2 linked regions of the Homo sapiens genome follow. The gene in region 2 interacts genetically with the main gene of each other region. Each region holds a gene or a part of one and is shown on either strand. Other genes may lie near its edges.

The links. A genetic interaction does not mean that the proteins touch.
Region 1: changes in FSIP1 (region 2) and SPPL3 together harm fitness less than expected from each alone (positive genetic interaction), as found in Homo sapiens cells (one large-scale study listed by BioGRID).

The regions. Positions count from the first base shown.
Region 1 is NC_000012.12:120,785,775-120,789,431, forward strand, and holds part of SPPL3 (signal peptide peptidase-like 3), read right to left. Parts: intron 1-3,657.
Region 2 is NC_000015.10:39,741,327-39,744,983, forward strand, and holds part of FSIP1 (fibrous sheath-interacting protein 1), read right to left. Parts: intron 575-3,657; coding exon 479-574; intron 1-478.

The DNA of each region.
Region 1 (3,657 bases), on a different chromosome or scaffold from region 2:
AGCCTGGGCAAACTAAGGAGACCCTATCTCTACAGAAAATTAAAAAAAAAAAAAAAATTAGGCATGTTATCTTGAGCCTGTAGTTCCAGCTACTTGGGAGGCTGAAGTGGGAGGATCACTTGAGCCCAGGAGTCCAAGGCAAAAAAAAAAAAAAAAAAGGAAAGGTCTCTTCATTATATTAAGGCTACAAATAAAATATGTAACCAGGATAAACATAGCAAGACACAAAGGGTTACAATGATCAACAAAATTTCTCTTAGGTATTTAAATTTGCCTGTCCCCAAAAGAGTTATTTAGGGTTTTTGATTGACTAAATCTATAAAACAAAATGCTTCTCAGGGACTAGGCAGATGAGTGAAGTAATTCACTTAGGAATAGGACAATTCAATTTAGGAAAAGTGAACTATGTGTCATGACAAACAGAAATTATCTTGGAAGCAGTCTGTCCTGACCCTAGTCAAATCCATTCAGCTTGGCCCAAGGATCACTTCGGGAAGTGTATCCATTAGACAAAACTCTATGAAATCTCTAACTAAATTTTACCTAAATAGTTTTTAAATGTAAGTGCTCTACAGTAGTTCAAAGAACAGCTAGAGGAAGCTACAGATTTTCAGTGCCTTTCACTACAGAAAATAATGTTTCTCAGATAAATAACTTTATCATAGGAACAAAGCATCAGGGAGTCTATAGACAGATTATACTGATTCAAAGTATGAAGAGAAAATTAAATGGCTAGCTAGAATAAAGACTGTAGTGGTGAGGTATATAAGAGATGCATTTGTTTATAATAAAGCTAAATTTTAAAAGTTCAGTCTGCAATTACATGCGAAACTGAATACAAAGGACCTTTCTGGCGTATTAGATAGAATGCACAGATTTTTTTTTTTTTAAACCACAGATTTTTGAACCAGGAGGCGATGTCACAGGGCAAGTAAAGCGCCTTTAGTTCCTGACAATATGCTACCTAAAACAATGTCCATGACTTCAGTACTCCATTTCCTAAAGTTCTGGAGATAAAGGTCTTGAATGGGAAAGAAAGAGGTAATTAATTAGAAATTTTAGCCAAACTCCAGTAACTTAAAAACAAAGCAAAACTGAGCAAAGCAAAACAGACTAGCCATAATTAGGAGGACATATGCAAGTGCAGTTGCATTATCTTTAAGGCAAAAATCAACATAGGAAATAGGCTTGGTAATGGAATTAAAAATTTTGTACAGCAACATCATTTTTAACATTCAATGAACATGGCTACAGGCTAAATGTACGTCTGGTATGGAATAGACACTGAGCAATAAAACCAATAACTATTAAGAAAATTACTGATTTTACACCTCCCTGTAAGAACGATGCTTTTGACTATTTGCTGAACACTTATTATATAGTAAGCAACAGGAGGGATTAAAAGAAAGTCATTTCCAGATCTCATGAAGTTTACAATCTAAGCAAGAAGATTAAGATGTATACCTCTACTAAAGATGAGGATCCCAACTATACATCTCCATCAATCTTTATAACTCAAATAAATTATAACTGAAGTTTAGTAAAAGTCTTTAAGATGTCAGATAATTGGGCAGGGGTGTACATGGCTTTTTAAAATTCCACTTAATACTACTTAAATGAAGGACTGATGTGCCATGGGAAAATAAATTTCTATATTGGCTTCTTGGGGGCAGGCAGAGAAGTTAGAACAAGGTCAGGGGAAATCAGAGGACCTGGAGGGAACTCTTGCCCTCCACCCTCACTCCTGTCACTTTCTAACCTTTTTTATGGTGAAGCATCACACCCAGAAAAGCACAAAAATGAATTATTACATATTTAATACCACTCAAGTCAAGAAACAAACCAACCCCAGAAATCTTCCTTTGTGTCCCTCTCAATCACTACTTTCTCTCTCTCTCTCATTCTCCTGAAGGGAACCGCTATCCTGACTTTTATGACACGTTTTCCACCCAAGCACGCATCCTTAAATACTAGTTTGCCTGTTTCCTAAATTTTATATGCATTGAGTTATGTAGTTATTTTTTTGTGTCTGGCTTCTTTGACTCAATATGATTTGTGAGAATTATCCATGCTGTTTTATGTAGCTACAGCAGTTCACTTGTTTTCACTGTATGAATACAGTAAAATTTATCCATTCTACGGTTGACATTTGGGTTGTTTCCAATTTTTTGGTTATTACAAATGCTGCTGCTCTAGGCACTCTTGCACATGACTTGATGCACATGTGACTGTATTTGCTGGATATATAACTAGGAGTGACACTGCTGGGTCCAAGGGTATTTATACTGTCACCTTTAGTAGGTAAAATGTCAAACTGCCTTCCAAAGTGACTGTGCTAACGCATGCTCTCCAGTAACGCAAGAGGGCTCTTTGCTGTTGCTGTGCATCCTCATCAGCACTGGGAATGGTCAAGGTTTTTAATTTTAGCTATTCTGGTGGTGGGCATGTAGTGCTTTTTCATTACTGTCTTCACTTTTACTTTTCTGCTTTCTAATGAGTTGAGTGCCATAGTTCCTGGCAGGCCTGATCAACTCTTCCTCTTACTTCCATGTGTTTCGAGTTGCCCAGATAGGTGGAACATTATTATAATCTGAAGTAATAATTACCCAGTCTTTTGGTCAAATACCCTAGGGCACCCTGCAGCGAGAAACTTTCAATTACAAACTGATTTCTCCATTTTTAAGTTCTGATTTTTTGGGGCATGAGTCACATGGCCCATCTAACCCTCTGTTGAGTCTCACTTAATGCTTCTCCTTCTCCTAGCTCCTATTATAATCAAGGACAGTCAAATCATTTCTGACATATTCAAAGCATGTAATCGTAAGAGTAACCCTTCACCCACGTACCCCACCAATGATGCTGGCTACACCTACAACTTCTCCTGCTCTCCTATCTCTTTACAAATTCCTTGTTTCTTATTATTTTGGGAGTGGGCAGCTACAATCTTTTAAAAACTTCTGATTACTGTCTCCTTCAATCAGTCTGAAACACTCCTGACAAAATCTTAACACTAAATTTATACTTTCTTTTTCTCAAAACCTTCTCCCCAGTTGTTCCACATTGTTAATCATCCAGGACTTCCATCTCCTTAGCACCTACACCTCTCTGTTTCTCTGTTCATCTTTCTGGCTATTATTTCTTTGATTCTTGATAAATTCATCCTGTTTTCCATGTCATCCTTTCAATCTGTAATAATTTTATATTCCATAATCAAGTACTGGTCGGCCGTCTTTGTAATGGCTTCTTCATTATGTTCTTCTTTGAGGAAGTGAATTTTGCAGTCTATGCTAATCTGTCCTTATCCTATTGGCATCCACTGCTCAGAGCAGGCACTGAAGAAATGTTGTCAAGGATAATTTAGTACAACATAGCTGGCAGAGTTAAGAAAGACCATTTAGGTTGGGTGCAGTGGCTCATGCCTATAATCCCAGCACTTTGGGAGGCCAACACTGGAGGATCACTTGAGGTCAGGAGTTCAAGACCAGCCAGGGCAACATGGTGAAACCCCATCTCTACTAAAAATACAAAAATTAGCCAGGTGTGGTGGTGGGTGCCTGTAATCCCAGCTACTCGGGAGGCAGAGGCAGGAGAATCACTTGAACCCGGGAGGCGGAGGATGCAGTCAGCAGAGACTGCACCTCTGCACTCCAGCCTGGG
Region 2 (3,657 bases):
ATAGCTGCCATGTTCCTACAGTGACCCCAAACCTTGCTGGGTTGGACAAGTTGGTTGAGCCAGGGGTAGGCCCCTGACCCAGCTGGATCACTCAGGCTCTTCTCTAGGATTGCAGAACTGAGCCAACCTCTGAATGACTAACCACAGCATATGCTCTTGGGAACCAAAGAAAGCTGCCTCCCACCAAAATCATTTTCACAGACTTGTTTTTGCTTAAGCCAGGTTTTCATTACTTGCAGCCAGCTTTTTTTAAAAACTCTTTATTATTATACAAAATTTCAAACATCCAAAGTAGAATGGTATAACAAACTCTCAACAACTAGCTGCAACAATAACCAATCTTGTGTCATCTTGAACTCTACTTGCTTCCACTTACCTTTGGATTAAATTACATGAACTTATTTCATTTATGAATATTTCTGTATACAGCCAGTATTCCCTTGTGAAAATGTGTATAATCACACAAATTTAAATATACCTTTATTGAGTTTCTGCATCTGCATTTCATATTCTTCTGGAGGGATTTGAGTATGAAACACTGAGGAAAAGGTGTCTTCCTCCTCATGAGAAGGACCTGTTGATTTAAAAAATCACTTGTTCAATGCTCACAAAATAAATTAAGTAGTTGTCTACAAAATTGTTTTAAAAAGATAACATTTAATATTCTCTCCAGTGTTCCTCAGTCCCCTCCACACACATAAATTTCTTAAGACAATGTTAATGTCACCTCCAAGTAGAAATGACAATCACCTTTGTATACAGGAGCCAAATGAAACAAACTACAGAAGCTAAGATAGTTAAACAGCATTTCCCTAGAACTTAAGCACAAAAAGGATGTGTAAGAGTGTGCTAAAATAACACATTAACTCTCCAGAGATAATGCATCCAAATCTTGATGTTCATAATACAGAGAATATGCATACTGAGTAACTATAATTATGGTTTTCTCTTTTTATTTTAGGTCCCCAAGGTGGAGACTTCAAATATGCGATCAGTCATTAAGATAAAGGAATGTGAGAGAGAACTTGGGAGACTCTTAGCAGTTAACTTTCTTCTTTTCTGATGTATTTTCTTGGCACCTCCATAAAGAAGATAGATAGGACATTGTGTTTTTCAACTTAACTTTGTTTCAGTGTAGTTTATTTTTATGTTCTCCTATTAGCTAATTCGGACACTGTATATTTGCAAGACGCCGTTAACATAAACGTTTTATTAAAAGTGTGTCTCTGTACCCTAATGTGAGGGAATCTGCCAGGTTGCAGCACAGAAATGGTTTTGCCTCAGAAAATATGGGAAGTCTTGAGGATATTACAGGATCCACCACCTCTCCCAGAAAGCAAACCAAGTTCAGACACCCTCTATGAGCTGATACAGACAAAGGAAGCAGGCAGAAGATACATTCACCCTCAACACACATTCACCTAATTCAAAACACAAAACTTCTGCTACAAACACTAATTCATCAATTCCAATTCCCTAATTTGGAATTCATAATAATGAATTATGAACTGTGGTTAACATTACACTGTTAGTCTTTGTACAATCTTTGATGAGTTAATCAAGCAAATTTGTGGTGTAAGCCTGGGGAGAGAGGGGTAAACTACTTAGAAAACAAAAAGATTTAAAACTGTTTCTGAACTTTCAGTTTTTTGTTGCAACCACTATTATTAGGGGGTCTTCAATATTCATTAAAAGTAGGCTCAGCAAGTCAGCAATTTGGCAACATTTTATTATCAGTTTAAGTTACATTTACATCATAGTCCTGAAGTGGTAATATATTTTTCTATCCCATAATTCCTTTATGATAACAGTTTACTCAATTTTATATTAAAACACCTGTAAAGACACAAAAATATGAAAATTTACAATATGGAAAACCCTCACAGGTGATCAGCGACTATCTGAGACCAGTGTCATGCAGGTGGGTAAGAAGAATTTGAAATTACTCTTGTGACCCTGTGGCTCTTTGCCCATCTTCCCAGTGGTATTCATTGCCTCAGAGAGAGGTGTGTACTACATACAACAAAGGTGCCATCAATCGGCTTTGAGTTTAAAAGACAACAGTTTTAAAAGTTGGGCATTCAATTGCAAGAGCTTAACCCTTGGAGGAAAAAAAAAACATTTTCTGAATTCCACATCTCCCTTTAGAAAATTCTTCCTTCTTTTTCAAAAACAATTAACGTAGAAGAAATTATGGAATTAACCATTTAGTAACCATCATAACTGACTCAGGTAAGTATCACCAATGAACGATAAAACTAGTGGGTGACAGTTTGAGGAATAATAGGATAATAGCCTCAAAGTATCTATCTCCCCACAAGATAATTTATTAATTACCAAAGGAAAAATAGTAACTTTACCATGAAGAAACCTGGTAGACACCATTTTCATTTAAAGTGGCCAGAGTTAACATTGTGAGCATCAGGACAATCACCGTCATGCACTTCCTGATCTGATTCATTGAGAAGGACACTATCACTTCTGTGGGATTCCTGCCAAAAACTCATAACCTGAACCTAACCGAGCAGAAACAAACCAACCCAAACTAGAGGACATGCTACAAAATAATAGGCCTACTATCTTCAAAAATGCCTGTGTCATAAAACACCAAGACTAAAAGGTATGACAATAATGTAATGCATAGCCTGAGATTTTTCTTTTGCTATAAAGGATATTAGAGGGACAATTGGCAAAATCTCAATAAAGCCTATAGATAATTGCAAAATAATCATTTCCTGATTTATATGTATAATCGTGCATGTATGTGTGTATATGTGTGTCCTTGTGTGGAGAGGGAAAGAGAAAAGAGAATGTGGTAAAATGTTAACATTTGGAGACTCTGGATAGAGAGTATTTGAGAATCCTTTGTACTTTTCCTATGACTTTAAATCTGATCAAAATTCAAAGTTAATAAGAAAATTTTAAAAATTCCTCTCTTCACTACAAACATTCATGTGAGAAGGAAAAAAAAATCTCCCTTTAGAGATCATGAGCCAAAACATTGATGATTGAGCAAGTTTTTAATATGAGTCCTGAAAGAGGAAGATTGCAGGATGTGATTTAAATTGCTTCCTGCCACCCATGGAAGAAATTAAAGCCCATCCCAAATAAGGACCTAGAGGACCTGGAAGACCAGCAGAGGGGATGAGTTTAGAGTAGACACAAGTGATACAGGTATTAAGCTGCTCCCCGGCACAGCCCCTGGAGGTGAAATCCTGGAGGTGCATAGAGAACCTGAAGAGGCTGGAGAAACCCACAGCAGAGTGAGCTCTGCCTCACTGTACACCTGGAACTGAGGGGAGACCCCGCACAAAGGAACATGGTGCTCTCCAACCACCCATGACAGCTGCAGACAAGCAAAGGCAGTGTGGCATGCTTACAGGGAGACAGAGGCTGAAGTAGTCTGTCTGTCTGTCTGTCTGTCTCTCTCTCTCTCTCTCTCCCCCTCAGTCACACACACACACACACACACACACACACACACAGTTCCCCACAGCTGGCCAGCCTGTGGCTTGAAGGAGAACAGAAGCTCTCACATGCCCCTGTGAAGAAGACTGGGGTCGTGATGAGGGGGTGGCATAGAGCCTTCCACCAGAGAGGATGTGGCAGGGACCACATACAACATCAGCATCTGCTGGCAGATGACAAAGGCTAAAT